4 separate regions of the Homo sapiens genome follow, and regions 2, 3 and 4 are each linked to region 1. Evidence: fine-mapped expression QTL. A gene starts in region 1. Each other region holds a variant in brackets. All regions are shown on one strand. Distances are between the middles of the regions. Region 1 holds the start of CYB5B (cytochrome b5 type B). Region 2 overlaps CYB5B (cytochrome b5 type B). Region 3 has its middle 18 kb from the start of TERF2. Region 4 overlaps CYB5B (cytochrome b5 type B).

Evidence for each region. PIP is the estimated chance that this variant, and not a neighbour inherited with it, causes the effect. A credible set is the group of variants that fine-mapping cannot tell apart.
Region 2: its variant is the best candidate, but not a certain one, in a credible set for the expression of CYB5B in sun-exposed skin (GTEx, PIP 0.53).
Region 3: its variant is the best candidate, but not a certain one, in a credible set for the expression of CYB5B in neutrophils (Naranbhai 2015, PIP 0.84).
Region 4: its variant is the best candidate, but not a certain one, in a credible set for the expression of CYB5B in subcutaneous fat (TwinsUK, PIP 0.68).

Annotation. Positions count from the first base shown.
Region 1 is chr16:69,420,372-69,428,629 of GRCh38, forward strand. CYB5B (cytochrome b5 type B) reads left to right here and starts at 4,248. Exons shown (of 5, transcript NM_030579.3): 1 at 4,248-4,486. The coding sequence starts at 4,313. RefSeq lists enhancers at 3,531-4,078, 4,079-4,626.
Region 2 is chr16:69,446,491-69,454,748 of GRCh38, forward strand. CYB5B (cytochrome b5 type B) reads left to right here. Exons shown (of 5, transcript NM_030579.3): 2 at 660-788; 3 at 1,625-1,654. Among named protein-coding and RNA genes, the nearest start is that of CYB5B, 26 kb to the left of the region's middle. The variant G/C (reference allele first, on the strand shown) is at 4,137.
Region 3 is chr16:69,399,684-69,407,941 of GRCh38, forward strand. No RefSeq gene overlaps it. Among named protein-coding and RNA genes, the nearest start is that of TERF2, 18 kb to the left of the region's middle. The variant CA/C (reference allele first, on the strand shown) is at 4,072.
Region 4 is chr16:69,457,136-69,463,873 of GRCh38, forward strand. It overlaps CYB5B (cytochrome b5 type B), which reads left to right. Exons shown (of 5, transcript NM_030579.3): 4 at 1,958-1,986; 5 at 5,295-6,738. The coding sequence ends at 5,385. Among named protein-coding and RNA genes, the nearest start is that of CYB5B, 36 kb to the left of the region's middle. The variant T/C (reference allele first, on the strand shown) is at 3,915.

The sequences.
Region 1 (8,258 bases):
AGCTGGGCATGGTCGTGGGCACCTGTAATCCCAGCTACTCAGGAGGCTGAGTCAGGAGAATTGCTTGAACCCGGGAGGCGGAGGTTGTACTGAGCCTAGATCATGCCACTGCACTCCAGCCTGGGTGACAGAGTGAGACTCGTCTCAAAAAAAAAGAGATGAGGTCTTGCTATGTTGTCGAGGTTGGTCTTGAACTCCTGAGCTCAAGCAATCCTTGTGCCTCAGCCTCCAAAGTGCTGGGATTACAGGAATGAGCCACAGTGCCCAGCAAAAAATAATAACTTTTTTTGTAATAATTTTAGATTTACAGAAAAGTTGCAAAAATAATACAATGAGTTTCTGTATACTCACTCAATTTTCCATAAAGATAGCATTTTACATTACCATAATATGTTTGTCAAAAGTAAGAAATCAACACTGGCACCTTACTGTTTTATTTGGATTTCACTAATTCTTCCCCAGTGCCCTTTTTCTGTTCTAGGATCCAGTCCAGGATACTATACTGCGTTTAATTGTCATGTCTCCTTAGTTTACTTGAGTCTGTGACAATTTCTCAATCTTTCCTTTTTTTTTTTTTTTTTTTATGAGCTTGTCAGTTTTGAGGAGTACTGGTCAGGCATTATGTAGAATGTCCCTCAGTTTGGGTTTACCTGATGTTTTTCCCATGCTTGGACTATGGTTATGGATTTTGTGGAAGAATGCCACAGTGGCAACATGCCCTTTTCATCACATCACACCGGGGGTACATGCTGTCAACATGATTTATTATGGAGATGTTTTAATTTGATCACTTGGTCAACAAGCTGATTTTAAATTGTGTGTGGGGCCGGGCATGGTGGCTCATGCCTGTAATCCCAGCACTTTGGGAGGCCGAGGTGGGCGGATCACCTGAGGTCCGGAGTTTGAGACCAGCCTGGCCAACATGGTGAAACCCCCTCTCTACTAAAAATATGAAAATTAGCCAAGTGTGGTGGTGGGGGCCTGTAATCCCAGCTACTCTGAACCCGGGAGGTGTAGGTTGCAGTGAGCTGAGATTGTGCCATTGCACTCCATCCAGTCTGGGTGATGAGAGTGAAAAAAAAAAATGTATGTGGAAATACAAAGGATCTAGAATAGCAAAAATAATTTTCAAAAGTTAAGAGCAAAGCTATAAGACTTATATTACCTGATTTAGTGCCTTACAATAATCAAGACTGTGGAATTGGCACAAGGATAAACAAATAAGTCATCGGAACAGAGTAGAAATTTCAGAAGGAGAACCACACTTATATGATCAATCAATTTTCGACAGATACAGGAAAACAATTCAAGGGGGAATTGTGTTTTCATCAAATGGTGCAGGAACAAGTGGGTATCCACATGGAAAAAAAGAGGCTAAGAAACCTGCCCAAGGTCACCAAGTTTGTGAGTGGCAGGGACAGGTATTCCAAGCCAGACTTTCTGGCTAACATGTGCTATCAATTGTAAATATAAATTTATAACCAAAACATTTAGGTCACAATAATTTTTCAGTGTAAAATTCAATTTGAGGCTATACTATTTAAAAATGTCAATGTCATGAAAGCAAAAGCAAAGTTAAGGAAATGTTCTAGATTAAAGGGGACTCAAGAGACTTAGCTAAGTGCAATACATGATCCTGAACTGGATCCTGGGTCATACAGGCACACTAAAATTTCACAAAGGACATGAATGCAATAATGGAAAATAATATGGAGAGTATGTTAGATAATAATTTTGTGTGAATGTTAAATTCTCTGAATTTGAAATTCATACTGCAGTTACGTGACAATATGTTCTTATTTTTAGAAGATACATGTAGAATTATTTGGCTGTAAAGGGTGGTGATATCTGAAATAGTTCAGCATTATTAACAACAATGATCAAAATAATATGGAAAAAATCAAATATTGAAAAATATTAACAGTTGGTAAACCTAAGCTAAAAGTATATGGTCATTCATTGTATTATTCTTGTAACTTACTTATTTGAAATTCTAAAAACATTTTCAAATATAATGTTACAGGTATATATCACTTAAGTGCTAGAATTTGTAATTTTTTTATTTTTTATTTTTATTTATTTATTTTTATTTTTTTGAAACAGGGTTTCGCTCTGTCATCCAGGCTGGAGCACAGTGGTGCGATCATACATCACTGCAGCCTCGACTTCCCAGGCTCAAGCCATCCCCAGATCTCAGCCTCTCAAATATCTGGGATTACAGTTGTGTGCCACCATGCGTAGATAATTTTTGTATTTTTTGAAGAGACAAGAGCCTCACTATGTTGCCCAGCCTGGTCTTGAACTCCTGGGCTCAAGTGATCTGTCCACCTCGGCCTCCCAAAGTGCTGGAATTACGGGGCTTGAGCCACCACATTCAGCCTGTAAATGTTTTTATTTCTTTCAGAGATTTTGTTTCTTATGTTATCTCTCTACTCCCAATGCCTATCATAAGACTTGTAACAGTAAATAGTAAATGTCTGGAATAAATGTAAATATTTGAATCTAGAGTTTGTGGAGGATCCTAAGAATCTTGTGAGATTGCTCTCATAGTGTCAGTCTAACTAGGGAGGTAAAATACGTAAAGTTAAAATTTACAGACGTAGCAGGCTTCCCAAAATAGTAATATGCTTTCTTAGGTACTACAAAGGGATGGAAGCACTGGAGCTCAAAACGGTAGGAGAAGTTTGAAAATAGAAGAAACTGAAGAGGAACTTGAAAAGCCGGTAGGCATTGAAAGGAAGAGGAGTCCTTGGGACAGCAATTGAGGGTAGAATGTGGAGTATCCCATGTTTCTACCACCATTCAGAATCCGATTTTCAAATGAATTCTGTGATGATCAGGATCAATCTGCACTATTTTAGTCTCTAAGTGATCTAAAATTAACTTGGTGGACCTGGGATGACCACGGATGTGGTTTTAAACCAGCAGGTTTCAGAGTCGGGGCGGGTGCAACAGGCTTATAAAGGGAATGGTGGAAAATATTATACGTTAGTGAAAGAGGTTGCGAATGGATTGTGGAGAGCCCTGAATGGTAGACTGCGAGAGTGACAGGATGAAAACGACGACATCATAGGAAGAGCAATCTGTCAGTTGTAATGGCAGTTAAAAAGTGGCGCACAACACTGTACCTTAACCAAACTTGGAATTCCAAAGTGCTGGGACCTCTAGCGGAGAGCAGTTGAGTTCAATTCTATTTTAGATCACGTAGAGACTAAAATAGTGCCGATTGATCCTGATCATCACAGAATTCGTTTGAAAATCGGATTCTGAATGATGGTAGAAACATAGGATACTCCACATTCTACCCCCAATTGCTGTCCGGGACAGCAATTGCCTTTCTAATCGACTGCCATGTTTAGCGATTACTATGCGCCAAGCGCTTTACAGGCACTCTCATTAAAATAGGCAAACCGGGCCAGGCGCGGTGGCTCACGCCTGTAATCCCAGCACTTTGGGAGGCCTACGCAGGCGGATCACCTGAGGTCAGGAGTTCGAGACCAGCCTGGCCAACATGGTGAAACCTACTCTCTACTAAAAATACAAAAATTAGCCGGGCGTGGTGGCGCATGCCTGTAGTTCCAGCTAGTCGAGAGGCTGAGGTAGGAGAATCGCTTGAACCTGGGAGGCGGAGTTTGCAGTAAGCCGAGATCGTGCCACTGCACTCTGGCCTAGGAGACAGAGCGAGAACTTGTCTCAAAAAAAAAAAAAAAAAAAAAAAAGGCAAACCCCTCTGTAAGAGAGTGCTTTATCAAGCCCATTTTACTGATGGGGAAATTGAGGAGAGACGGGATTGGCCAGATCACGACCTGGAGGCAGCAAAGATGTAAAATCAGGGTTGGGATACAGGCTGCGCCGGTAGTGTAGGGGATAGGAACTTTCTGAGACTCAGGAGAAAGCCACAGCGATGGGAAGGGAAGCAGAACACTGGAGACCCTAAAGGCCCACAGGCTGAGAGAAGTGGTACCTCTCCTGAAGTGACACCTGTCAGCACGCCTCTTTTGGGCGCCAGTCCAAAAATCGCGGTATCTGATTGGCGAGGTTGGAGGGGGCTGAACGACCCTAATTGGTTAGTTGGACCTCGAACCAGACTTTCATCTGGAGGATCGGGCGAGGAGTGGGCGGGATTTCGAACTGAGCCACTCCCTTCATTGGTGAAAAGAAAACGAACCAGGAACTATTCGGAAGTGTGATTGGCTGTTGCTAGGAACCGTCTCAAGGCCTTATGGGCCCTGGTTACGGAAGCCGAGGAAGGCTGAGCGCGGGCTCTCAAGGAAAGTAGTCGCGGAATCTCAGTTAGCGGTGGAGAGGCAGTATGTCCGGTTCAATGGCGACTGCGGAAGCTAGCGGCAGCGATGGGAAAGGGCAGGAAGTCGAGACCTCAGTCACCTATTACCGGTTGGAGGAGGTGGCAAAGCGCAACTCCTTGAAGGAACTGTGGCTTGTGATCCATGGGCGAGTCTACGATGTCACCCGCTTCCTCAACGAGGTGGGGCCTGGGAGGTGGGAGGCCTCTGAAGCTGCTGGGGCGAGGGGTGAAAAGGCTGTGTGGAGTGTATGTGGGAAGGAAGGGAGGCTTGGCTGGGGGCGATAAGGCGTAAGAAAGGGATCACGACCCTCAGAGGGAAACTGGGGTGGGATTGGGGGAGGGCTTTAGTTTGCATGCATTTCCAGTCAGCTCCGAGTTCTGGTGCCTTATGTAATATCATGTATTACTTATGTGTCGAGCATTTGCTGTGTGCTCAGCTAAACTCTAAGCCATCATTATCTTTATTTTACAGAAAGGGAAACTGAGGCTCACAGGTTGAGGACTCTCAGGGCCATAGAGTTAGCAGCTTAGATCCGTTGAACCTAGGTCTGAAGTGCACCCACATCTGTGCTTTTCCAGTGTGCCTTCTGAAGTAATACCGGTTTTGGTTTTCGTCTTCTAGAGTAGAAGCTGAGATTTCTCTCCACACGCTTCCCCATCTTGATTATGCCTCCACTGTTTTTTTTTCCCCCTAATCTGAGTTGACCTTGAGGCCAGAAACTCATAAATCAACCCTTTTTTTTTGTTTTTGACTCATGTTTTGTCATTTTTCTTAAATATTCAAGACTGTTTTATTTAATCTTCAAGTCTGTTGCATTACATCTCATTTTAAAAATTATTTTTGAGACCATGGTGCAACTAATTTTTTTTTTAAGGAAACAGGATAGACTTCTAAATATTTAAAACTTTATTGAGGTGTAATGTACATACGTAAATTGTGCCTATCTAAAATGTACATTTTGATGAGTTTTGAAAAATGTATTCATCCATGTTAAGACATAAACCATTTCCATCATTCTAAAAAGCTTCCTTTCCCTTTGCAGTCATTCTCTCCCAACCCCAGGCAACTAGTGATATGCAGCCGCTAAAGATTGGTTTGAAGCTTTGATTTTCGGTGTGTGTATGTTTGAAGCTTTGATTTTCGGTTTGTGTGTGATCATTTTATTTTGAGCAATAGATTAATGACTTGTGAAAGTTCACTTCTATTTCTCTGAAGCAAATATACTAGTGAAATATTTTTTCGATTAATTTGGGGCCTAAAAGAGAAATCTCTGCATCCTGACTTTTAATTCTAAAAACTTTTAAAATTTAAAAGTTTCCCCCAAAGAACATTATTTTTAATAAATCTTAATAGTGAACAATAATTTAACAAACTCAGAATTTACTAACTTCTTGCATTTGTATGGTGTATGGCATTTTATGCTTTTAAAAGTGCTTTCCGGTCGGGCGCGGTGGCTCACGCCTGTAATCCCAGCACTTTGAGAGGCCGAGACGGGCGGATCACGACGTCAGGAGATCGAGACCGTCCTGGCTAACACGGCGAAACCCCATCTCTACTAAAAATACAAAAAATTAGCCAGGCGTGATGGTGGGCGCCTGTAGTCCCAGCTGCTCGTGAGGCTGAGGCAGGAGAATGGCGTGAACCCGGGAGGTGGCACTTGCAGTGAGCCTAGATTGCGCCACTGCAGTCCAGCCTGGGGGACCCAGCGAGATTCCATCTCAAAAAAAAAAAAAAAAGTACTTTCCCGGCCAGGTGTGGTGGCTCACGCCTGTAATCCCAGCACTTTGGGAGGCTGAGGCGGGCGGATCACGAGATCAAGAGTTCCAGACCAGCCTGACCAACATGGTGAAACCCCGACTCTACTAAAAATACAAAAATTAGCTGGGCCTGGTGGTGGGCGCCTGTAATCCCAGCTACTCAGGAGGCTGAGGCAGGAGAATCACTTGAACCTGGGAGGCGGAGATTGCAGTGAGCCATGATTGCACCACTGCACTCCAGCCTGGGCGACAGAGCGAGACTCCAAAAAAAAAAAAAAAAAAGCTAGTGGAGGGTGACTTGGATAGTAGTGATTTTTTTTTTTTAACAGAGGTACAAGTAACAGGTTCAGAAAGATCCTGGTCATACAATCAATTAGTAGCAGATTTGACAGATCCCTTGATTTCTCTTGTCTGCATAGCATTACTTCAAAATTCTAGCCTTAGCTATGACTTCTGGTATTTGCTTCATAGTAAGTTTCATGCTAAAGCATGGTTCATAATGGGTAGAAAATCAAGTTTTTTGGCTGGGCGCAGTGACTCATGCCTGCAATCCCAGCACTTTTGGAGGCACAGGCGGGCAGATCACCTGAGTTCAGGAGTTCGAGACCAGTCTGGCCAACACGGCGAAACCTCGTCTCTACTAAAAATACAAAAATAAGCCAGGCTTGGTGGCACCTGTGATCTCAGCTACTTGGGAGGCTAAGGTAGGAGAATCGCTTAAACCTGGGAGGTGGAGGCTGCAGTGAGGTGAGATGGTGCTGCTGCACTCCAGCCTGGGTGACAGAGTGAGACTCCATCTCAAAAAAAGAAAAAAAAAATCATGTTTTTCATTTGTGGTTTTATTTCCCTCCATTTTTTTTCTTGATTGATTCAGAATAGATGGTGAGCTTGGAGGGAACACTCAGCCCTTACAGAGAGCATTAATTCAGTCTCAAGTAATAGTTGCTAACCTGTTTCTTTCTTTTTTTTTTTCCTCTGTGAAGATTCCAGAAGTAACTAACCTGTTTCAACCACATGCTGATATAGCCAGAGACATCACTAATGTGCCAAGGTTTCTCTTGGAGCTTGAGCTGCAGCTCTTTACCTGCAGTTTTGTTTTTTTTGTTTTGTTTTTTGAGACAAGGTCTTACTTTCACCCAGGCTGGAGTGCAGCTCACTGCAGCCTCAGTCTCCTGGGGTCAAGTGATCCTTCTATTTCAACCTCCCGAATAGCTGGGAAAAGGTGTGCACCACGACGCCTGGCTAATTTTTAAAATTTTTTGTAGAATTGGGGTCCCACTGGCTGGGTGTGGGCTCATACCTGTAATCCCAGCACTTTGCGAGGCGAAGGTGGGCAGATCATGAGGTAAGGAGTTCCAGACCAGCCTGACCAAAATGGTGAAACCTCGTCTCTACTAAAAATACAAAAAAATTAGCTGGGCGTGGTGGCACACACCCGTAATCCCAGCTACTCAGGAGGCTGAGGCAGGAGAATCGCTTGAACCCGGGAGGTGGAGGTTGCAGTGAGCCAAGATGGTGCCGTTGCACTCCAGCCTGGGCGACAGTCAGACTCTGTCTCAAAAAAAAAAAAAAAAAGAATTGGGGTCCCACTATTGCCCAGTGTGGTCTGGAACTCCTGGGCTCAAGGGATCCTCCTGCCTGGGCCTCCCAAAGTGCTGAGATTACAGGTGTGAGCCACTGTGCTCAGCCTAATTAGCTATTCTTATTTATTCTGTTTTCTTGTTCATTCCAAGCCTATTCATTCATTCACTTATTCAAATATTTATTAAGCCTTTACTATGTTCTAGACACTGTTCTAGGTGCTGGGGATTTAGTAGTGAATAAACAGCTATGCCCTCATGGAGATTACATGGCACAGGAGGCAGACGATAAGCAGAGTAAATAACTAAAATATATACTACATTAGGTAGTGGTAAGTGCTAAGAAGAAAAATAATACAGGGGGCTGGACACGGTGGCTTAGGCCTGTAATCCCAGCACTTTGGGAGGCCGAGGCGGATGGATCATGAGGTCGGGATTGAGACCATCCTGGCCAACATGGTGAAACCCCATCTCTACTAAAAATACAAAAATTAGCTGGGCATGGTGGCATGTGCCTGTACTCTCATCTACTTGGGAGGCTGAGGCAGGAGAATCACTTGAACCCAGAAGTTGGAGGTTGCAGCGATCCAAGATTGTGGCACTGAACTCCAGTC
Region 2 (8,258 bases), 26 kb after region 1:
ACTTTTTGTATTTTTAGTACAGACGGGTTCACCAAGTTGGCCAGGCTGGTCTTGAACTCCTGATCTCAAGTGATCTGCCCGCCTTGGCCTCCCAAAGTGCTGGGATTACAGGCATGAGCCACCGTGCCTGGCCTAGTTAACTTTTTAATTTGAAACAATTTCAAAGTTACAGAAAAGTTGCAAGAATAGAATAAAGAATTGCATATACCCTTTGCCTGGAGTCCTTAGTCAGGTTTCTGCAGCTATCTCAATAATATTGGCAAAAGGAACCAACCTAGGATCACCCATTATTCCCAGTTGTCATGAATCTCTAGCCTCCTTCAATCTGGAACAGTTTCTTCACTCTTTCTTTGACTTTCATGACTGTGGTATCTTTAGAGATCACAGGCCAGACCTGTCCAGAAAGATTTTGTAGAATATTTCTAAATTTGTGGTTGTCCCAGGTGTCCTCACTGTAATCCCCATATGATGCATTTTTGACCACAGTATCACAGAAGTTATGCTGTGTTCTTCCCATTGCATCCTGTCAGGCACCACACAATGTCAATTTGTTCCATTATTTCTATTAAAGGGAGAAAGGAAGAAGGGGGTATGGGAAAGTAACTTGTTGGTTTGCTTTTCAGAGAACCCTCGGTTCAGTAAATATCTTTTCCTTGTAGCACCCTGGAGGAGAAGAGGTTCTGCTGGAACAAGCTGGTGTAGATGCAAGTGAAAGCTTTGAAGATGTAGGACACTCTTCTGATGCCAGAGAAATGCTAAAGCAGTACTACATTGGTGATATCCATCCGGTAAGAACTATCAGAGATGGGAGCCCTTATGCAGAGAAAACTACTTAACAGCTGCAGAACAGGATGAAGAAATGAATTATTGGCTGGGCGTGGTGGCTCACACCTGTCATCCCAGTACTTTGGGATGCCAAGGCAGGCGGATCACTTGAGGTCAGGAGTTCGAGACCAGCCTGGCCAACATGGTGAAACCCCACCTCTACTAAAAAATACAAAAATTAGCTGGGTGTGGTGGCGCACACTTGTAATTCCAGCTCCTCAGGAGGCTGAGGCACGAGAACTGCCTGAACCTGGGAGGCAGAGGTTGAAGTATGCCAAGATTGCACCACTGCACTCCAGCCTGGGTGAAAGAGCGAGACTCTGTCTCAAAAAAAAAAAAAAAATTATTAAAATGGAAATTCATTCAATCTAGCCATCAGGCTAAATTTTCTCCAAAATTGTCTAGTCTTACTGTGCTAGGATATAGCTTCTTCTTTGCCAGGTAGCACATGTAATATCTCTAAAAAGCTAAGGGAACTGATTCTGGATTATTTTTATGTGTTGATTTATTTTTGTAATGCAGTTAATAACACCTTTACCTAAAATAGTGGTTTGCTTGTTTTTGCAAGCTCCTTGCTAAAGGTAGTAATTATGGACTTTAAAAACTATCCATATATACCATTCTAACAAGGGACTCTGATATGCTCAGAGTAGAGGTATCTTTCTATGGATCCTCAAATCTCCCAGGGAATTCACTATCACCAGAATATAGTCTCATGTTCCAAAGTTAGAAACAAGCATATAGTGAGAATTCATTTGGCTATGTCTTAAAATATTATTTGTTTTCCTTTTTTTGACAGAGTGACCTTAAACCTGAAAGTGGTAGCAAGGTAAGAAGTCAGCGGTTTGTCTTGTGTTTATATTTGTGTTTACTCAAGTAGGACTGCTTTTTGAAACATTTTTTCTTAACAAGAGAAGTTACAAAGTATTTACTTTTTCCCCAAGCAAAAATCCTATTTTTCTGGAATTTGGACTCAGTATCATCTCAGGAATAAAAGAATAGCTGAGTCTTGAACAGTAGGAAACATTTTGCTAATGCCTTTATACGCTTTTTTTTTTTAACTGAAACTCCAAAGCTATGCCCTGTGTGGTTTTGAAAGAAATTAGTTTATGGGTTCAGTTGTGGAAAAATATCTTACTTTTACATTATGTAGGACAAGTGATAATAATTGTTTCTGTGTTGGAAAAAAATAATTGCAAAGTTGTTTTGTTTCTTATAGGTTATCTTCTTTATCTGTAATACAGAGGCCTTTCTGTACTTATTTTCCAAATTTAATTCTTTTTTCCTGTAGGCTCAAACAGGCCCACACCCTTCCCGGTTACTTAGTAATACAGCGAAAACAAAAGACTAAGTATTTGAGTGTTTGAAAACTTTAATGTGTACTACATTGCATACCAGGAAGAAAATATGGAACCATTTTCTGCCTCCCACATGCTAGGTGGTTCATTTCCCTTATTCCCTAACAATTTTCCTTAATTTCTGTCCTTCAGATAGCTGGTACACAGCACTCTAATTTAAAGGGACAGCAGTTTAGGTGCCACCTAGAACATAGGAAAGTGATGCTGCCTCCCTTCCATTTTCCTCCTCCTTGCTGCTTGCTTCCCATTCCTCATTGAGCCGAAATTACTGAATAGGTTTGACACAGCAATTAAAGTTGGCCTAGACACAAGAATTCTATTAACTCAAGAGATTGCTTGCTTAACAGTGTCTGCCATCTGTTGCCCTGCAATCCAGAGTGTTTGTGTAAATTAACTCTTCCATGTTGCTAGACTGCTACTCTGAACTATTGAATTGTTTCTGAAAGGGGAATGAAATGGTTCTTAAAACACTTTGTAACAACTGTTGGTTGTTTGTCCTCTCCTCCTAACACATGTACTATCCATTCTTGAATCCTTAAAAAAAAAAAATTAAATAGTTCAAAACAGTATTCTGTAAAAAGTTTCTTCCTGTCTCAAGCTCTCAGTGTCTTAGTTCCCCTTCCCTGGAGGTAACCAGCCATCATTTTTTGTTGTTGCTTACTCTTAATAACTTGTGTTATTATGGTAAAATTTGAACGAAGCGTGGCCTTGATTTGTATATTGAACATGTCCAGAAAATACCACTTTCAGAGGTCAACATCTGATTCAAAGGATATAGGAGCCATAACACATTTCTGCACAGCAACTATGAGAGCATCTTTTATATTAAAACAATAGAAAAAATATGTTTGCAATTACAATGTCTAGAAGTCTACAGATTGCTTCTTGTTGCTGTTTTTCTTTCTTGGTAGTACAGTTAGGACCATTCTTAGGAATGTAGAACAATGTTCCCCAAATTCTGTTCTTGTATCACCTCAGTTGGAATCCCTTGGTATGTACATGAATATATATAGGAAATGTTTATTTCTTGGGCTTCTACTCCTACTGCTTTGGAATCTCTGGAGATAGGGTTTAGGAATTTGCAATTTAAGTAATCTAGGTGATAAGTAGGTAGCTAAGCCCAAACTTTTTGCTGAATGATATGCCCATCTTTTCATTTGAAAACTTAGGAAAATTTAATTCTCTTCTGTGGTAAGCATTGTCTGCCTTCTATAGGCCAAAGGATTAGAGATTTCTCAGCTGAATTAAAACTATTGAGCCATCCAGGTGCAGTGGCTCACGCCTGTAATCCCTACACTTTGGGAGGCTGAGATGGGAGGATGGCTTGAGCCCAGCACTTGGAGACCAGCCTGGGCAACATGGTGAGACCCTGTCTCTATTTTTTAAAAATCATAAAATTAGCTGAGCATTATAATGTGTGCCTGCAGTCCCAACTACTGGGGAGGCTGAGGCTGGAGGATAGCTTGAGCCCGGGAGTTTGAGGCTGCAGTGAGCCATGGTAACACCATTGCACTTCCATCTGGGTAACACAGCATGACCCCATCTCAAAAAAAAAAAAAAAAAAAAACCCAAAAAACTATTGAGCCTTAGATTTTTTTGTAAGAAAGATAGAAAAAGAAAGCATTTAAGCTCACCAAGTTCTATAATAATTTAGAAGTCTCCAAATGTAGTTTAGCCCCTATCTGGGTTAAAAAGTGACTAAAGGCAGTGTTTTCAATCCTGTTTTCCTCATGTCACTGTACTCAAGGGACATGTCTTCATTAAGTAGAGAGTCTGGCTATTGTGTTTCTAGTCACTCTGCTCTACTTCAGGCAGATCAGGCAAGAAAGGCCTTTTGGAACATTTTCAAGACCACCTACATAGGTTTTTATAGAGCTATATTCCAACCTGACTTCAGTTCCAGGAAGAAATTCTTGATCTCTCAGATTTATTTCTTACAGAGGTTTAAATAGG[G/C]ACTTGGTGTCTAGGATGTAGGTATCTCTCTTCTCCATACTTTATCTGGTTTAAACATTCACCATTAAGAAATGGAAATGGAGTTCATTTCATTGGTTACCTTCCTTTCTCTTGGTTCATGGTTTCTGAATCTTTATGAAGAAGTGATTTTTAAAAGTCAAATTAAAAAGTATCTTCAGCCTATGGGAGAGAGTTTTCATTTCCATTTTCCTTCTTCTCCTTCTTCTACTCCCTGTCTGAACTGCACCATCCCTACTGCCCGCCAAGAAAGAAACACTCAAAATGTTGCTATTCCAAAGTGTAAGTCAGTAACCATTCCCTAATTCTTTTAGAAAACACCTTTCATATTACTTTTATAACACAGGTAAATAATTAATGGTCACCATTGTTTTATTGTTAGATGGATAGTACCTGAGTTGAAGGCCCAGAATTAATATACTAAAAACGTAAAGACTTAAAAACTTAAAGATGTAGCAACAGATTTTTTTTTAACCCGCTTCAATCAAAAATAACTAACTAGAATTAAAAACCATTTGTCTTTGTGAATCTCTTCCTTGCTGGATTAACCCTCATGCTGAGAGCCGTCAATCTCCTACTTATATTTGACTTAACATTTTTCTGGTTTGTTTTTGGTTACGGAAACTCACCTTAGAAACAGACTCAGTGCTCTCTGTGCCAGTTTGCCTGCCTGCTTGCCTGCTCTTTAGCAAGTAACCTATAAATATTCGTGGTCTATGAATTCTCTCTTTGATGATGTATTTACTTCTTGGTTAGCTGTTTTATCACTTAATCTGCCATCAGTTCAAGAGATAAAGTGCATACAAATCGTAACCTGACTAAAAAAGTGGGCACCATTTCATTCATTTCTTCAACAGATATTATCTAGATAATAGTTCAACTGCTTTACTAGTTAAATCTTGTAGTCAAATAGGTCTAGTAATTTGACCTGTTCCCCATTACATTTTTTTTGAGTGAGTATTATAAAATGTACATGGTAAAAAAAAAATTTAAATAGTTCAAAACAGTATACTATAAAAAAAGTTGGCCGGGGGCGGTGACTCACGCCTGTAATCCCAGCATTTTGGGAGGCTGAGGCGGGCGGATCACGAGGTCAGGAGATAGAGCCCATCCTGGCTAACATGGTGAAACCCCGTCTCTACTAAAAATACAAAAAATTAGCCGGCCGTGGCGGCGGGCAACTGTAGTCCCAGCTACTCGGGGCAGGAGAATGGCGTGAACCTAGGAGGTGGAGCTTGCAGTGAGCAGAGATCGCGCCACTGCACTCCAGCCTGGGCGACAAAGCGAGACGCCGTCTCAAAAAAAAAAAAAAAAAAAAATTCCCTCGTATATCCAGCTCTGAGACTTTTAGTTCCCCTTCCCTGGAGGTAACCAGCCATCATTTTTTTGTTGTTGTTTACTCTTCCAAAGATTCCATGCATTCATAAGGATGGATGGATGGATAGACAGACAAACCAACCATCATTTCCTTTAAAAAAGTAAAAAGCTGGCCGGGCGCGGTGGCTCAAGCCTGTAATCCCAGCATTTGGGGAGGCCCAAAATTTGAGTAGTCCCAGGTACTCGGGAGGCTGAGGCAGGAGAATGGCGTGAACCCGGGAGGTGGAGCTTGCAGTGAGCTGAGATCGCGCCACTGCACTCCAGCCTGGGCGACAGAGCGAGACTCCGCCTCAAAAAAAAAAAAAAAAAAAAAGGTAAAAAGCCTCATACATACTATTCTTCACCTTGCTTCTCTTTACTTAAAAATTTTATTTGTTGGCTGCACACTGTGGCTCACGACTGTAGTCCCAGCACTTTGGGAGGCTGAGGTGGACGGATCACACGAGGCCAGGAGTTCGAGACCAGCCCGGCCAACATGGCGAAACCCCGTTTCTACTAAAAATACAAAAATTAGCTGGGAATGGTGGTGTCCCAGCTACATGGGAGGATGAGGCGGTAGAATGGCTTGAACCTGGGAGGCACAGGTTGCAGTGAGCCAAGATTGTGCCAGTGCACTCTAGTCTGGGTGACAGAACGAGACCCTGTCTCAAAAAAAATTTTTTTTTTATTCATCATTATTTCTTGTCAGTTTATTAACATCTTTTGGGCTGGGGGCGGTGGCTCACGCTTGTAATCCGAGCACTTTGGGAGGCCCAGCTGGGTGGATCACGAGGTCAAGACCATCTTGGCCAACATGGTAAAACCCTGTCTCTGCTAAAAATACAAAAATTAGCTGGGCGTGGTGGTGCACACCTGTCGTCGCAGCTACTCGGGAGGCTGAGGCAGGAGAATCGCTTGAACCCGGGAGGCGGAGGTTGCAATGAGCCGAGATTGTGCCAATGCACTCCAGCCTGGTGAGAGAGCGAGACTCTGTCTCAAAAAAAAAAAAAAGATCTTTCTCATTTTTTAAGTAGATATTTAGTATTCCATAGATGAAAGTGTTGATGTGATGACATTTGCTTTCGAAGGATTTGATCTGTTTTTTAAAACAAATAAAATTGTCTCCATAGAGGCTTAACGTGTTTTTTTAACTTCATTTTTAACTTAAGAAGCTTGACTTATGAAATCTAGTAAATTTTACATGTTAGAAGCAGTCTATTAATTGCATTTAAAGTTACATTTTTTCTCCCAGATGCTACTGACTTTTATTATACATACAGTTTTCTGTTATATAATGTATTATGTAACATACAGTTTACTTCTTTTATGAGAGAAACTAAAAGGAATATATTGTTTATAATTATGAAATATAGTTAGTTGATTACATCAAATTAAAAATTTTATTTTTAAGAATTATTTAATATCCCTACCATACCTACTACCTAATTTATTAAAGTTTGGAATGGGATGCTGATGCCCTTTAGACAAGCAGTGATTGCTATTTACCAGAGAATTTTGTCTGGTTATTTCCTGATTTCTTGTGTGTTTTTTTGTTTTGTTTTGTTTTTGGGCGGGGGAACGGAGTGTTGCTCTGTCACCCAGGTTGGAGTGCAGTGGCGCGATCTCGGCTCTGCAACCTCCGCCTCCTGGGTTCAAGCCATTCTCCTCCTGCCTCAGCCTTCTGAGTAGCTGGGATTACAGGCGCCTACCACCACGCCTGGCTAATTTTTGTATTTTTAGTAGAGATGGGGTTTCACCATGTTGGCCAGGCTGGTCTCGAACTCCTGACCTCAGGTGATCCACCTGCCTTGGCCTCTCAAAGTGCTGGGATTACAGGCATGAGCCACCAGCTACTGCACCTGGCTTATTTCCCATTTTCATATACACTTATATTTTGTAACATAATCTTTTGAAAGAAAGCATAGAATGTGATGACAAAATTACTCCTGAAAGACAAAATACCCTTTGCTGAGGGTTCTCAAGGACTAATGTCTTCTATTGGTAAAGCTCTACTTAGAAATGATGTATAGTTTTGCAAAACAGGGTTCAGAAGGGTAAGGAAACATTCTTTTCAAATCAGCCCTCCAATGTTATAACAAATTTTTCACTTCTTAAGTCCTGATAGAGATCATCCTGTGAATGTGTTAATTTTTTTTCTTGAGTGAGGTGTTATATATTTTATCACAATGAGTTCTTAAGAGAGTTTATAGCAATTTGTTTTAGGGGCTGTTTTTCATCTTTGAATTTTGCCATATCTACAGGGAAATTTTTTTATATAACGGTTTGACTCTAGGATTATATACTTTGCAAGGCAGTAATTGTTAAATTATATTCACATCCAGAAAGAAATGGTTCTTACTGACTTGAATATTTTAGTACATTGGAGCTTCATGAGAAGGCTGTCCTCAAGATCCATACCACATGACTGTGTCATAGTTGGGACTGTAAAATGCTGAAATCATATACCTTCAATACTCAAAACATTTTAGGTGGTAAAATGAACCTAATATTAAAATTCATATAGTGTTAGCTCATGCTATAAGGTCCATGGTATTAAGGGGGAGAAATCTTTTCCAGTTTAGAATTTGAAGCCAGAAGTTCCCAACTTGTTTTTCATAAGTTACTGGCCACAGGGATACCAAAGTGTTCCAAATTCAAAGCTACACAGTCTCTACCAGACCACCTAAATACCCATTACATTTGCCAAAGGTGTCCTGTGGCTTAAAATCTACTTTTTCCAATTTTAAA
Region 3 (8,258 bases), 21 kb before region 1:
CCAGGCTGGAGTGCAGTGGTGCAATCGTAGCTCACTGCAGCCTCAAACTAGTGGCTTCAAACGCTCTTCCTGCTTTGGCCCCCCAAAGTGCTAGGTTTACAAGCATGAGCCACTGTGCCCAACCACAGTGTAATTTTGAAAGTCATTCCTGGATATTTATCCTAGTGTCTATTTCTTCAACTTCCCTAATGAGTCCATGAGCTATCCATACCCCTTAATAAATCCTTTTATGTTTAAATTAGCAAGAGTGAAATCTGTTTTCTGCAACAAAGAAAACTAACCAATACATACATTCAATAAATGTTAGCTCTTACTATTATTTAAAATACTTCATCAAAGGTTTAGTAATAATGGAAGTAATTACATTTCAGGAAAGGAAATTTTAAATTGGCTACTAGATAGGACTATATAAAATAACTTCTGGAGTAGTACTGTCCCACAGAACTTGCTTTTTCTTTTTCTTTTTGAGACAGTCTCACTCTGTCACCCAAGCTGGAGTGCAGTGGTGCCATCATAGCTCAATGCAGACTTGAACTCCTGGGCTCAAGTGATCTTCCTGCCTCAATCTTCCAAATGGCCTCCCAAAGTTCTGGGGTTACAGACGTGAGCTACTGAGCCTGACTTGAATTCACAATATCGGCTCACTGCAACCTCCACCACCCAGGTTCAAGCGATTCTCCAGCCTCAGCCTCCTGAGTAGCTGGGATTACAGGTGCCTGCCAACACGCTCGGCTGATTTTTGTATTTTTAGTAGTGACAGGGTTTCACCATGTTGGCCAGGCTGGTCTTGAACTCCTGACCTCAGGTGATCCACCTGTCTCAGCCTCCCAAAGTGTTGGGGTTACAGGCGTAAGCCACTGCGCCTGGCCAGAACTTTCTTTAATGATGGACATGTTCTGTATTCGCACTCAATATGGTAGCCACTGATTATATGTGGCTTTTGAGCACTTAAAATGTGGCTTCTATAACTGAGGAACTGAATTTTTAATTTGATTTAACTTTAACACACTTAAGTTTAAAATTAAATAGCCACTTGTGGCTAGTGGCTACTGTGTTAGATAGCACAGTCTTGAGTATCCCAGCCCTACCTTTCACAAGGGTGTTTTACAGCTCTCTCTCTCTCTCCCTGGCCAAGGAAACATCTTCAGTCAGTTCTTCCACAAGCCCCAGTCTCAGGGCCACACCATAATAATCTACAGAGGTGCAAAATGCCCACGATGATGACAATTTTTAAACGGTAAATTTAGAGTTTCATTGTACCTAAACCTCATTCTAAGATTGCATATTGACTTTTTATTTGCACGACCGAATGTTTATTGACTATAAGGTACTTGTATGTGTGTATAATGAGAACTGTACAAGAATGTTTACTGAAAAACCAAACACCGCATGTTCTCACTCATAGGTGGGAATTGAACAATGAGAACACGTGGACACAGGAAGGGGAACATTACACACCAGGACCTGTTGTGGGGTGGGGGGAGGGGGATAGCATTAGGAGATATACCTAATGTTAAATGACGACTTAATGGGTGCAGCACACCAACATGGCACATGTATACATATGTAACAAACCTGCACGTTGTGCACATGTACCCTAAAACTTAAAGTATAATTAAAAAAAAGTTTACTGAAGCATTGTCTATAGTAGACAAAGGTTGGAATTAATCTAAATGCCTATCAAAAGAGAAATAGCCAAGCACAATGGAATATTGTATAAAAGTTAAAAAGGGCCGGGCACAGTGGCTCACACCTATAACCTCACCACTTTGGGAGGCCAAGGCAGGCAGATTGCTTGAGCCCAGGAGTTTGAGACCAGTTTGAGGAACATGACAAAACCCTGTCTCTGCAAAAAATACAAAAATTAGCAGGGCATGGTGGCATGTGACTGTGGTACCAGCTGCTTGGGAGGCTGAGGCAGGAGGGTCACTTGTGCCCTGGAGGTGGAGGTTGCAGTGAGCCAACACCATGCCACTGCACTCCAGCCTGAGTGACAGAGGGAGACCCTGTCTCAAAAAAAAAAAAAAAAAAAAAAGAATGACTATCTATAATAATCGTATAAAGTGTTCAATATTATATTATTGAGTGAAAAGAATCAAACTGCAGAATAATATATAGAATATAATTTGTTTTCTTAAAAACATGCATGTAAAAATACTACATGTTTATTTTCTATGAGTACATTTATATGTATGCAAAAGTATACTGAAAAGTCAGTGAGGATAGCCTCAAAACTCCTAGAAGTGATTTTTTTAGAGGAAGGGAGAAAGGAACTGGCGTTGTGGGGAGTGATTAAAGAGAACCAAAACTTTGTCTGCAATGCTCTAATTTTTTTCAAAAGGGAAGAATGTATTACCATATATTCACTAGTAATTAAATGCTAATAAAAATACAAAAAAAATAATGGTAGACTTTTAAAGGGGTAGCTTACTGTGAAATAAGATGAATAATTATAAATTTGTTATTCAAAGCCAAATTTTTTTTTTTTTTTTTTGCCTGACTAGTGGTCAAAAGGAGTCAGTAATCAGAGCCATCATCCAACAACTCTAGGAACCTTCTGGAACACAGACATTCACAAAAAGAGTGCAGATTTCAGTGAAACTCCTCTTCCACGTGTCACTTTTTCATGTTATATACATAAACCCACATAATGGACCATAAAAGTTTCATAGACCTTCCTTGTCACACAACCAAGCAAATGTACAACTCAAAGGAAACCAGGAAAAGACACAAGAGGTGTCCAAGTTCAGCTTCAGGAGGTCTCTTTTCTATGCTCTTCCACTCCCCCCCTTCCTCCCACACAGATGTTCCCTATAAATGAGCTTGGCTCTATGCAGCTCATATCAGAATGGGATTGTCCAAAACAGTTTGAAGAGAGGAACTCACACTTCCTGAAATGATTATCTCTTGACATAAATTCAAATTTAGGAAGGAACCGTCTAAGCCTTTTATAAATACCCATGATGCCCATATGTGACTCAAGACTGATTTTGTTTCCTCCTGTCCTCTTGGTACCTCTTTTATCTTACTATAGTGATGCTATGGCTTCGGTTCATGACTACAGTGAGTGACAGCTGGGATCTGGCCCTTTCCTCCTGCCCCAATTCATAAATGGTGGGCGTTTCTCATATCTCGAGGGCCCAGGTGCTTGGAAATACTGCCAAATATTCCTTTCAACTTAAAAAAAATGTAATTATACTGGATTAGGTTATGCATTCACATAATTTAAAAATTCTGAGGATACAAAGAGTATAAAGTGAAATTTGTTTCCCCATCTATGTTGTCCAGTTGCCCAGTTCCCTTCCCCAGTTCTACCAGTTCCTAGAATACCTTCCCCTAGATAGATATTTTGTACATGTTTAAAATAACATGTTTTAAATATTTTTAGTAGAGACAGGGTTTCATCATGTTGGCCAGGCTTGTCTTTACAGGCCCAGCATGGTGGCTCACGCCTATAATGCTAGCACTTTGGGAGGCAGAGGCGGGTAGATTGCCTGAGCTCAGGAGTTCAAGACCAGCCTGGCCAATGTAGTGAAACTCCGTCTCTACTAAAATACAAAAAATTACCCAGGTGTGGTGGCGCATGCCTGTAGTCCCAGCTACTTGGGAGGCTGAAGCATGAGAATCTCTTGAACCCGGGAGGTGGAAAGTGCAGTGAGTTGAGATCGTGCCAGTGCACTCCAGCTTGGATGACAGGATGAGACTCTGTCTCCAAAAAAATTTTAAAAATAAAATAACACATTTATATTTTCTCCCCTCCTTTTATTTTTTTATTTTACATTAGCAATAGAACACTATATGGGCCAGGTGCAGTGGCTCATGCCTGTGGGCCGAGGTGGGTGGATCACCTGATGTCAGGAGTTCAAGACCAGCCTGGCCAACATAGTGAAACCTCGTCTCTATTAAAAATACAAAAATTAGCTGAGCGTGATGGTGGGCGCCTGTAATCACAGCTACTCGGGAGGCTGAGGCAGGAGAATCGATTGAACCCGGGAGGCAGAGGTTGCAGTGAGCTGAGATGGCGCCATTGCACTCCAGCCTGGGCGAAAAAGCGAAACTCCATCTCTATCT[CA/C]AAAAAAAAAAAAAAAAAAAAAGAAAAGAAAAAAAAGAAAGAAAGAAAAAGAAATTAGAGAAGTATCTGGGATTTAGAAAGTTCAGAAAACTTGGAGAAGGGCCTTTGGCCCATGCGGTGGTTACTGAGATGCTCATTGTTTACGTGCAGTTGACTTCAAGATAGAAGGTTCAACCTCAGTGTCAAGCTCAACCTCCAGGACCCTCTTGGAGACTTCCAAGACCTAGGATGGCTGGGCATTCAGTGCTTTGGGAGCTGCCATCCTTCACCTGCTAGGGTTCTGTGTGGGATCGGGGTGGGGGTCTCTGTTACTCAGGAAACTGCCCTCCCTTCCTCCCAATTAGATTTGCACTTTATTACTTTTTTTCTTTAGCTTTTTTCGAGATGGACTTATACTTAAAAAAACCTGCTCTTAGATAATGGGTGGCAGGGGGGTAGAGGGGATTTGAGAAGACCTGGAAAATTCCCAGGTCTCCACTAAATAAGAAAACTGGAGAGTAAGGGGACTGGAGAGGAACGGAGAAAGAAATGTATTTTCTTTTCTTCTTGTAATCAGAACTGTAGCTTGCAATATTTTTTTCCCAAGCTTCTAAGAGAGTTTTGCAAACAATTGGAGTAATTAAAAGTTCTCAGAAGTAGCCGATGGTGCCCTTTTCACCGAGGGAATGTGGGCCAAGCATGATATATTAAAAGAGAGGGAGCTGCTCTATTGAAGTTAAAAATAATCTGTCACATGGCTAATTTGTTGGAATGCAGCAATAAAGGGCTGTGGGCAGAGGGAGAGCTGGAAGCAGCTGGGAAGTTTGCAGGCAGAGTGCACGCCCTGGGGACTGTGTTTGTAGGGAGAGAAAACAGTGTTACAGCTGCCTTAGGGCACCTTATCAGAAAACCCACAAAATGGGCAGGAAGAAGGAAGAGTAGGTTTGAGTCCAGAGCATGACCTTTGGGCTTATCAGACAGTGAAGGGATGGGTCAGAACTTGTCACCTGTGTTCACGGGATGCTGATTCACTCAGCAAGGATGAAGTCTTTTCAGATCCCCCTGCATTTGAATCCGTTTCAAAGGAATACATAATTCAAAGGAAGCTTTTGATCCGAAATCCATGGGAAAACCAATCTATAGGGTCTTGAGCGAAAAAAGTTCAAGCCAGGAATACAAATCCTAGTTTGGGGGATTGGGGATATTATAATTTTTGAAATGTTAGAGTTGAAAGAGAGAAAACAAATTATTTAGTATAATCCCTGAATTTTCCCTTCCTTCCTTCCTTCCTTCTTTCTTTCTGTCTTCTTCTTTTTTTTTTTTTTTTTTGAGACAGAGTCTTGCTCTGTTGCCTGGGCTGGAGTGCAGTGGCTCGATCTTGGCTCACTGCAACCTCTGCCTCCCGGGTTCAAGTGATTCTCCTGCCTCAGCCTCCTGAGTAGCTGGGACTACAGGCATGCACCACTGCGCCCACCTAATTTTTGTATTTTTAGTAGAGATGGGGTTTCACCATGTTGGTTAGCCAGGATGGTCTCGATCTCTTGACCCTGTGATCTGCCTGCCTCGGCCTCCCAAGTGCTGGGATTACAGGTGTGAGCCACCACGCCCGGCCTACTCCCTGAATTTTCTACATGAGGCAACAGGCTCAAAGAGGTTGATTTGCTCAAGGTCACTCAACCAGCAAGTAACAGAGCTAGATTCAAACCCAGGTCTTTAGCTAGAAAGGAAGGGCATAGTGGTTAGCAAATATAGGGTTCAGAATGCCCTGATGTCAAATCCTGGCTCTACCAGCAGGACCCTTGGGCAAGTTTCTAACTCCTCTCAGTGTTAGTTTCATCATCTGTAAGATGGGAATAACAATAGTACCCACTAGAATTGCTACAATGTATGTAAAGTGCTAAGTATGACATCCAGCCTAGAGGAAAGGCTTAATCAAACACTAGATGTTATCATGCCACAGCTTTTTCATCACCCTGCATCAAATTTCTAGAGCTTTCCGCAGATTAACTTGTCCAAACATCCTCTTTGGTTTGGGTGGGATTCTCTTTCTCCCTTTCCCACCTCCAACTCTCACCCATTATATATAAAGAAAAAGAGGGTGGCCGAACTTTAACCTCTCTATCCTCTGGTAGACACTTTCGCTAGCATTTCCTACATTGTAACACACCCATGAGACTTGTTTTCTCTTAAGCTACATGCCCTCCGGCCTGTATTTTCAGTATGGTTTCCAAGTTGCTGACAGGCAGAAACGGTGCCAACATGAAGAAGCAAGTATTGCTGCCCCAAATGCAGCAGCAAGATGTGTTTGAATGTTTTAGAATAGATGATCATTTTTCAAATTCATAATGGGCACCGCTCACAGAGGGGGCTCTTAACATACAAGGCAGGTCTGGGCTCATAGTTAGCACTTCTGGAAAGTGGAGGCCGAGTTCTGTGTGTGCACATACCAAAGAACAGGAGCCTACCTCCAGCAGCTTGGGCAAAAGCAAAGGTGAATTTAGTGGCTCAAGTAACCAGAAGACCAGATTTCATTGATGACTAGATTCAAGTGTTCACTAATTAGACACATTTCTGCTTTGTTGGGCTCCATTCTTCAGACTGATTCTTTCTACTTGGCAGAAAAAAAAACATCTACAGAGAGTCTAACCTTTACTTTTTCTCCAGGTTAGTTTTTTTTTTTTTTTTTGAGACAAAGTTTTTGCTCTTGTTGCCCAGGCTGGAGTGCAATGGTGTGATCTCGGCTCACGGCAACCTCCACCTCCCGGGTTCAAGTGATTCTCCTGTCTCAGCCTCCTGAGTAGCTGGGATTACAGGCATGCGCCACCACGCCCAGCTAATTTTATATTTTTAGTAGAGATGGGGTTTCTCCACTTTGGTCAGGCTGGTCTCGAACTCCCGAACTCAGGTGATCCACCTGCCTCGGCCTCCCAAAGTGCTGGGATTACAGGCTTGAGCCACTGTGCCCAGCCCTGTTTTTTTTTTTGTTTTTTTTTTTTTGAGATGAAGCCTCTCTTGATTGCCCAGGCTGGAGTGCAGTGGCATGATCTCTGCTCACTGTAACCTCCGCCTCCCGGGTACAACCAATTTTCCTGCCTCAGCCTCCCGAGTTAGGGCTACAGGTGTGTGCCACCACACCCGGCTAACTTTGTATTTTTAGTAGAGATGAGGTTTCACCATGTTGGCCAGGCTGGTCTCAAACTCCTGGTCTCGTGATCTGCCCGCCTGGGACTCCCAAAGTGCTGGGATTACAGGCATGAGCCACCCTGCCCAAACTGGTCAGTATTCTTAAGGAAAGTATGTCACGCCTCCCTGAGTTGTCTTTCCCTGATTGGCTGCTTTAAATCACATGCCTATTCCTGAAACAATAGGGCTAGGAGAACAGGCTTCTCTGATTGGACAGAGTGGATCACATGCCCAACCCTTGTCACCAAGGGAAGGCGGAGCATACTGATTGGCAGCACCACTACTTCACACAGAATGGAAGAGGAACAGTTCCTAAAAGAAAAATTGGAGCTACAGAAACCAGAAGACAGGGAAAGGGATACAAAAGTCCATGACAAGACCTACGTGCATTTTCCTTGGATGGTGGTTCATAGCTTGCTTCACATCCTCAAAGTTATTGTATAATCCAAGAAATAGTAAGACTTTTGGGGCCAGGCACGGTGGCTCATGCCTGTAATCCCAGCACTTTGGGAGGCCGAGGCGGGTGGATCATTTGAGGTCAGGAGTTCGCGACCAGCCTGGCCAACATGGTGAAACCCTGGCTCTTCTAAAAATACAAAAATTAGCCGAGCATGGTGGCGGGCGCCTGTGATCCCAGCTACTCGGAAGGTTGAGGCAGGAGAATTGCTTGAACATGGGAGGCGGAGGTTACAGTAAGCTGAGACTGCACCACTGCACTGCACTCCAGCCTGGGTGACAAAGCAAGGCTGTTTTCTTAAAAAAAAAAAAAAAAAAAAAAAAAGAATTTTTGGAGAAGAAAATGCTTCCTCCTACTCCAGATATTTCCTTTGGTGTGAAGGGCCATCAACTACTATAACGCTCCAGCCTCCTCTTCAGCCCTTACTCCTGCACATAGGGAAAGGAGAGCATTAGCATATTCCCAGCCCCAGGAGAAACTGGGCATGAGTTGCCGTGTCTTCCTCTTCCTGGTATCTGAGGATCAAGAAGGGAGCACAAATTCTCTCCCTCCACATGGGAGGGTGCT
Region 4 (6,738 bases), 36 kb after region 1:
TATTGTTTAGAAATTTTTACATTTCAGCATAGTACGGTTTTGGCTGTCTTTGTTCTCTTTCTTCTTCAGTTGCTTATTACCTTTTTCTAAGGCTCACCCTACTTAGCAGAGATCCAGGGCTTTTGATTGTAAAAGAGGCTAAAAGCTTTGAAATTTAGAGAATCCATTTATATGAAGTATATGATTTTTACTCTAATTATAGATTAAACATCATAATACATATATTATGCTGTGATGCTCTCATATAAGCCTTTCAAATTATCCCTTTTAAAAATAGTAACTACATTTTTTGTCTATAAATCATTGGTATTTATGTAGCTAAAGCATAAAAGACCATGAACATTTTCTTGATGGAATTCAATTATTTCTCGGTTACTGTAGTGGAATATTTATTTTAAAAGGCAGCATTATAAATTAACTTGATGCACATACTACCATCGCTACCACTCCTACCTTCCGAATCTGTAGATAGTAACATTTGTTGTATTTTTCAAAGATTGACTTGTAACTCATTTTAATTAATCGGATCCTTACTAGACTAGTTGAAATGTCCCAGATAATGATAATCATTAAAGTCTTAAAGAAGTATAGAAGTATGTTAATATGGTTTCTTTAAAACCTTTCGTTTGCCATTTTTCTTGCCTACAGACTAATTTCTTTCAGGTTTGGGGCATGTATTCATTTGCATGACAGTGTTTTGGATATATGAAATTAAAACTCATTTCATGGACTGCTCTAAAGTATATTGGGGCCAATGTGATTGGTTTCTGGAAATTCTTGGAGATTATTGAAAACGGTGGTTAAGCAGAGCTAATATTCCATGTTCATACCCTGATATACTTCTACATTTTGCAAAGATGGTATTTTGGGCAGCAGCAACCTATGCTAAAGGGTTATTGTCCTCTGGCAGTAAGTTAGCAGGCCTTTTGTACTATACAGCTGGTTAATGGAATCAATAACTCGTTTGATACTTGAATTGAGTAAAAAAATTGTAATAACAGCTTTATCGTGATACAATTCACATACCATACAGTTTACCTATTTAAAATGTACAAATCAATGGTTTTTAGTGTATTTACAGAACTGTGCAGTCTATTTTAGAACAATTTCCTCACTCCAAGAAGAAACCCCATATTCATTAGCAGTCGTTTTCCATTTCCCCACAACTCGTCCTCCTCACACCAGCCCTAGGCAACCACTACTAATCTACTTCTAACTCTATTGATTGTCCTGTTGTGAACATTTTATGTAAACAGATTTATATAATATGTAGTCTTTTGTGTCTGCTTTCTTTCACTTAGGATAATGCTGTGAAGTTTGTAGCATATATCAATACTTCAGTACTTTTTATTGCCAAGATTTGTTTTTTAAGATTATTTTATCATTTTCTTTCCCTTGACTCCATTTTTTCTCTTTTCATTGTGAAATCAATTCTAAGGTCTCCTGTCATAATTATTATGATTTCAAGGAGTGAACCAGTATATTTTTGTGATCTACAAGCAATCATCTGTATGATCTAGAGCATTTCACAGTTGATCTACATGTTAGAAGAGCTTTTTGGACTTTAAAAAATGTTTTTAGAAAGTGTGATGTTAGCTATTGCCAGTGGCAAGCCCAGCTGAACCAGGTACATCATCATGACCACAGAGTAGTCCATTTCAATATAGTTTGTATCATTAACATTTTTTAACATCTAAAAAAGTTTAGGTCATTTCTATGCTTTCATTAGTGATTCTTCACTAGGAAGGAACCTAGTGAAGTGCCAGTATGTTATCAGAAATAAAATTCCCAGTCTATCCATTGCTTATATATTTGTAAACACCAAAATGCATGAAAGATGAAGTTCTGGTATCAGTTACAGGGTTGACATAGCTTGATCAAGAAAATGTACATGTGCTATGTTAATCTTCTTTCTTTTTGTTTGTTATTTTTGAATTTTTTTTTTTTTTTATTTCAGGACCCTTCAAAAAATGATACATGCAAAAGGTTAGTATCTCCTTAACAGCTTTCCATACGTTCAAGGTAATGTCTGGCAAGAGACTCTTCCATAAGTATATGTATGTAACATAACTTATGAGTGCAGTTTGACAACTAATTCTTTTTTGGCCCAAATCATTGCAAATTCAGTTGTTCCTTGACATTAGAAAAATTAACTTTTACAGTTTCAGCCATTTTGAATAATCTAAAAGTTTCATGCCTTGAGTCATTTTTTAATCTTATTGTGACATAAATTGGAATCACACTCAGTAAGAGGCCAGGATGCATGGACAGGTAGCTACTATTGGGTCAGCCTTTAGTCCCGAAGTTCAACCCAGCTACATGATTCTACTTAAAACTTAATCGCATTTACTTCTCACAACCACTCTGTAAGGTAAGTGCTATTATTACATATTGCAGGAGAAAAAAATACTACGGTCATATTTAGGAATTTGGGTTTTCTCAGGTTTATTTACAATATATTCCTTGGCATTAATATTAGTAATTCATTAGTATTAGCTCTGAAAGTTATAAATTGCCTTACCTTAAGTGCCTCTATCTAAAATGACTGTGGAATCCTTGGCTTGTACAGTATCTTTGTGGAGATTATATAGAGCTAGCCATTCTATTTTTTGGACATCTCGAAGTATTTCAGAGAAAGAAAATATGTCTTTTTTTCCCATAAAGTATCAGATCTATTACTTGAGGTAACGGACACAGTATAAAAAATTACAAACTATTAGTAAATTTAGTTTCCTTAATATTAAGGGCTTAGGATCAGCGAAATGCTGCATAAAAATTTTGAAAATACAAGCCACAAAATTGCAGATTTTAAACAAAACTTATGCTTATGCAGGGCCGGGCGCGGTGGCTCACGCTTGTAATCCCAGCACTTTGGGAGGCTGAGGCGGGTGGATCATGAGGTCAGGAGTTCGAGACCAGCCTGGACAACATGGCGAAACCCCATCTCTGCTAAAAATACAAAATTAGCTGGGCATGGTGGTGCGAGCTTTGGGAGGCCAAGGCAGGAGAATCGCTTGAACCTTGGGAGGTGGAGGTTGCAGTGAGCCAAGATCGCTCCATTGCACTCCAGCCTGGGCAACGAGAACGAAACTCCATCTCAAAAAAAAAAACCAAACCTTATGCTTATGCTATAAAACTTAGACTTAAGCAAAGCATAAAACTGATAAAGAATTATTAGGTAGAAGATATAAAGAATTCCTACAAATCAGTTTTTTAAAACCTCAGTAGAATATGAGAAAAAGATTTAAGCACTTTACAGAAAAGGAAACACAAATGTAAACATATGGAAATGAGGTTTAATCTCATTCATCATTAGTGATATGTGAATTAAAATCATAGGTATATTTCATACCTAACCAGATTGGTAAAAATTAAAAATTTTGCAAATAAGAGTTGGTTGGAAAGTTTATCACCGACTCTTAAGCACTCCTAGGGTAATGTAAATGAGTATAATCACTTTGGAAAACAGTTTGGCATTATCTAGTAAATTTGATAGGATGACTTAACTTTTGACCCAGCAATTCCATTTCTAATGATATACTTGATAGAAATGTGTGCCCAGGTACACCCAGAAATATATGCAAGAATGTTCATAGCAGTGTTATTCGAGATATTCAAACATCAGAGACAACCCTAATAAATTGTGGTATATTCATACAATGGAATACTACAAAACAATAAAAATAAAGGAATCACAAACATGTAGTAGTCTAGATGGATCTCCAAGAAGAAAAATCTGTCTTATGGTAGGAAGTTATTGTTGAACCTGAATCTCCTGTGATGCAGTATAAATGTATTTCCTCTGGTTCTCTCCTCAGTGGCAGTTAAGTATTAGGAAAGATTATGTGAGGATTGGTGTCAACCATTCTCAGTCTTTTGTACTAAAGAAATTTTCTGGCCGGCGTGGTGGCTCA[T/C]GCCTGTAGTCTCAGCAAACTGGGAGGCCGAGGTGGGTGGATCACGAGGACGGGCTGAGACAGAAGAATGGCGTGAACCCCAGAGGTGGAGCTTGCAGTGAGCCAAGATCGCGCCACCGCACTCCGGCCTGGGTGACAATGAGACTCCGTCTCAAAAAAAAAAAAAAGAAAGAAAGAAAGAAATTTTCTCCTTCAATGTTTTCTCAAGGATCCTACTTTTGGATTCTTCAGTCTCTTGCGGTTACTCTTCAAGGAGTCTGAATTCATTACTCTTATCAGGAGATTACTTCAGAGTTCCCATGTGCATATTGCTGTTATACGTGCCATATTGCTTGGTTTTGTAAACAAAGCTACCTGGCTGATATTCTAAACTAGTCCAGAGTAGCTTTCTGCTGTACGTAAGCATACAGAGTGCTAGGCATGTTTAGGCAAAGAGAATCATTTTTCTTATGAACTTCAGCTCGTTTTATTGACTTCAAAACCTTTTAATACCAAGACTCATATGTCTTAAGTAGAGGGGCAGCCGGGTCATTTGGATCATGGAAGAATTATACCTTAAAACTAGTGTGCTAATAAGTTCTATTAAAGAATTATTATGTTAAGGAGAATGATGACTGTTCTGAAGCTCCTAAGGAAGGTCTCTTGCAGTACTTTTGAAGCTGCCATTTGCTTCACCCTGTTAGAACTGTATATGCTTTGTGTGTATGTGTATCCTTATTAGTGTCCAAACTTAACTAGGGATTAAGAGGATGGGTTTGGAATCAGACTGTCCAGCTGCCTTTCTAGCTTTGGGATTTGGGGTGCAAAGCTTATATTTCCCTTGTATGAGATGAGAATAATAACCCTATTTCGTAGGTTATCCTATTTCATAAGGATTAAATCTTTAAAATACATATGAAGCAGATAGGATATTTCTGGTAGTTATATTAGATATGATTACTTCCAAATTTATATTGGGATGGATATGTTTTTATACATATATGAAATGTCACATACATAATGGTGTTTTTTCCTGTTTAAAAATGTTTAATTGTAGAATACGTGAAAAGCAAAAGCACAATGAAGAAAATGTGAGAGTATCCATAATCCCTAACTCAGAAATAACCACTATATGACTTTGTAGAAACACATATAGAGGCATTTAAAGACATCTTATTTGATATCATACTATTGGTTGTTTTTAACCTTTTAAAAAATTACTTTGTAATATTGTCACTCCAATTCAAATATTTTTCCCCAACTACTTTGTGATAAAAGCAGTTAAATTTCCCAAAGTAAATAAAAACTCCTTGCCTATATAAAAACATGTGAAAGCTGAAAGATAGTGAACATTTGGCTTAAAATATTAACAACTTTATTGCTTTCTCCCCCTATTCCTAGTTGCTGGGCATATTGGATTTTACCCATCATAGGCGCTGTTCTCTTAGGTTTCCTGTACCGCTACTACACATCGGAAAGCAAATCCTCCTGAGGAGGCCTTGCTGAAGTTAGAAAGTGCATCCACTTTGGGGCGAAAACTAGAGACTTGCTTGGGGGCTGCAGAAGTGCCCTCTCCTCGAATCCTGCCAGTTGCATTCTTCCCCCTTGGAGCCAAGACGATTGGCCAGACATCACCTCAGATCTGAGACCAGCGTCTTCCATCTCTCAGAGCCTTACTCCCAAAGTACCTGCTCACTGTTCCGTGTTGAACAATTGCCGGTGTTTCCTCTCTTCACTGGTTTCCATGAGTACCCTTATATTTCACAACTTTCTGTTCATAAGTTATAGTGACATTGCTCTTTGGTAAAAATGCCTGCTTTCCAATACTTTGATTGCATATTAGACATTCTTAACAGGGCGGCAGTCTAGTGTTGAAAGTTTTATTTTTCCATTTTTCTTTTAAGTAAATTTTTTTTAAAAAATTCTGATTTAGGGCTAGGTGTGGTGGCTCAGGCCTGTAATCCTGGCACTTTGGGAGGCCAAGGTGGGAAGATCGCTTGAGGCCAAGAGTTCAAGACCAGCCTGGGCAACATAGCGAGACCCCTATCTGTATTAAAAAAAAATCTGATTTAATTCTTTTATTTATCATAAGGGGTTTAATTCCTGAAGTAAAGGTTTGCACCTATTAAACTTAAAACTGCCAAATGATTTTTGTTCTTTTATGTGCGTGATAAAAATACAAAGAATGGTGTGGCCACCTCCTCCCTTTCAAGCTAGGGCAGCAGGTAGCTCTTCCCAGCCCCTGAGCCCAGCCCCTTCCCAAGTGGTGCCGGACAAAAAACTACATGGCCCTTTCGTGTCTTGGGGGTGGAAAGGTAGGGATGAATTGGGGTGATAGAACCCTGGTGAATTCAGAGTAATCTTTCTTTAGAAAACTGGTGTTTTCTAAAGAAACAGGATAGGAGTTTAGAGAAGGCACCAAAGCTTTCACTTTGGTTTGGCACCAGTTTCTAACCATCTGTTTTTTCTACCCTAGCTATCTTTTATTGGTAAAATATAAATGTATAATTATGTTTGTAGAGCTTTACCAAGGAGTTTCCCTCCTTTTTTGTTTGTTGATTAGCAAATTTTTGATTCTCCATTTTCCAAAAGTAAGAGACTCCAGCATGGCCTTCTGTTTGCCCCGCAGTAAAGTAACTTCCATATAAAATGGTATTTGAAAGTGAGAGTTCATGACAACAGACCGTTTTCCATTTCATCTGTATTTTATCTCCGTGACTCCAACTTGTGGGTTTGTTCTGTTTTTCCATGAGAATAAAATACTGGCGGTTTTTTTCTCAGATGTGTGTTCATTGAGAAGTAGGTTACTAGAATTATGTTACTGTGTCTTATTGGTTCAATGATG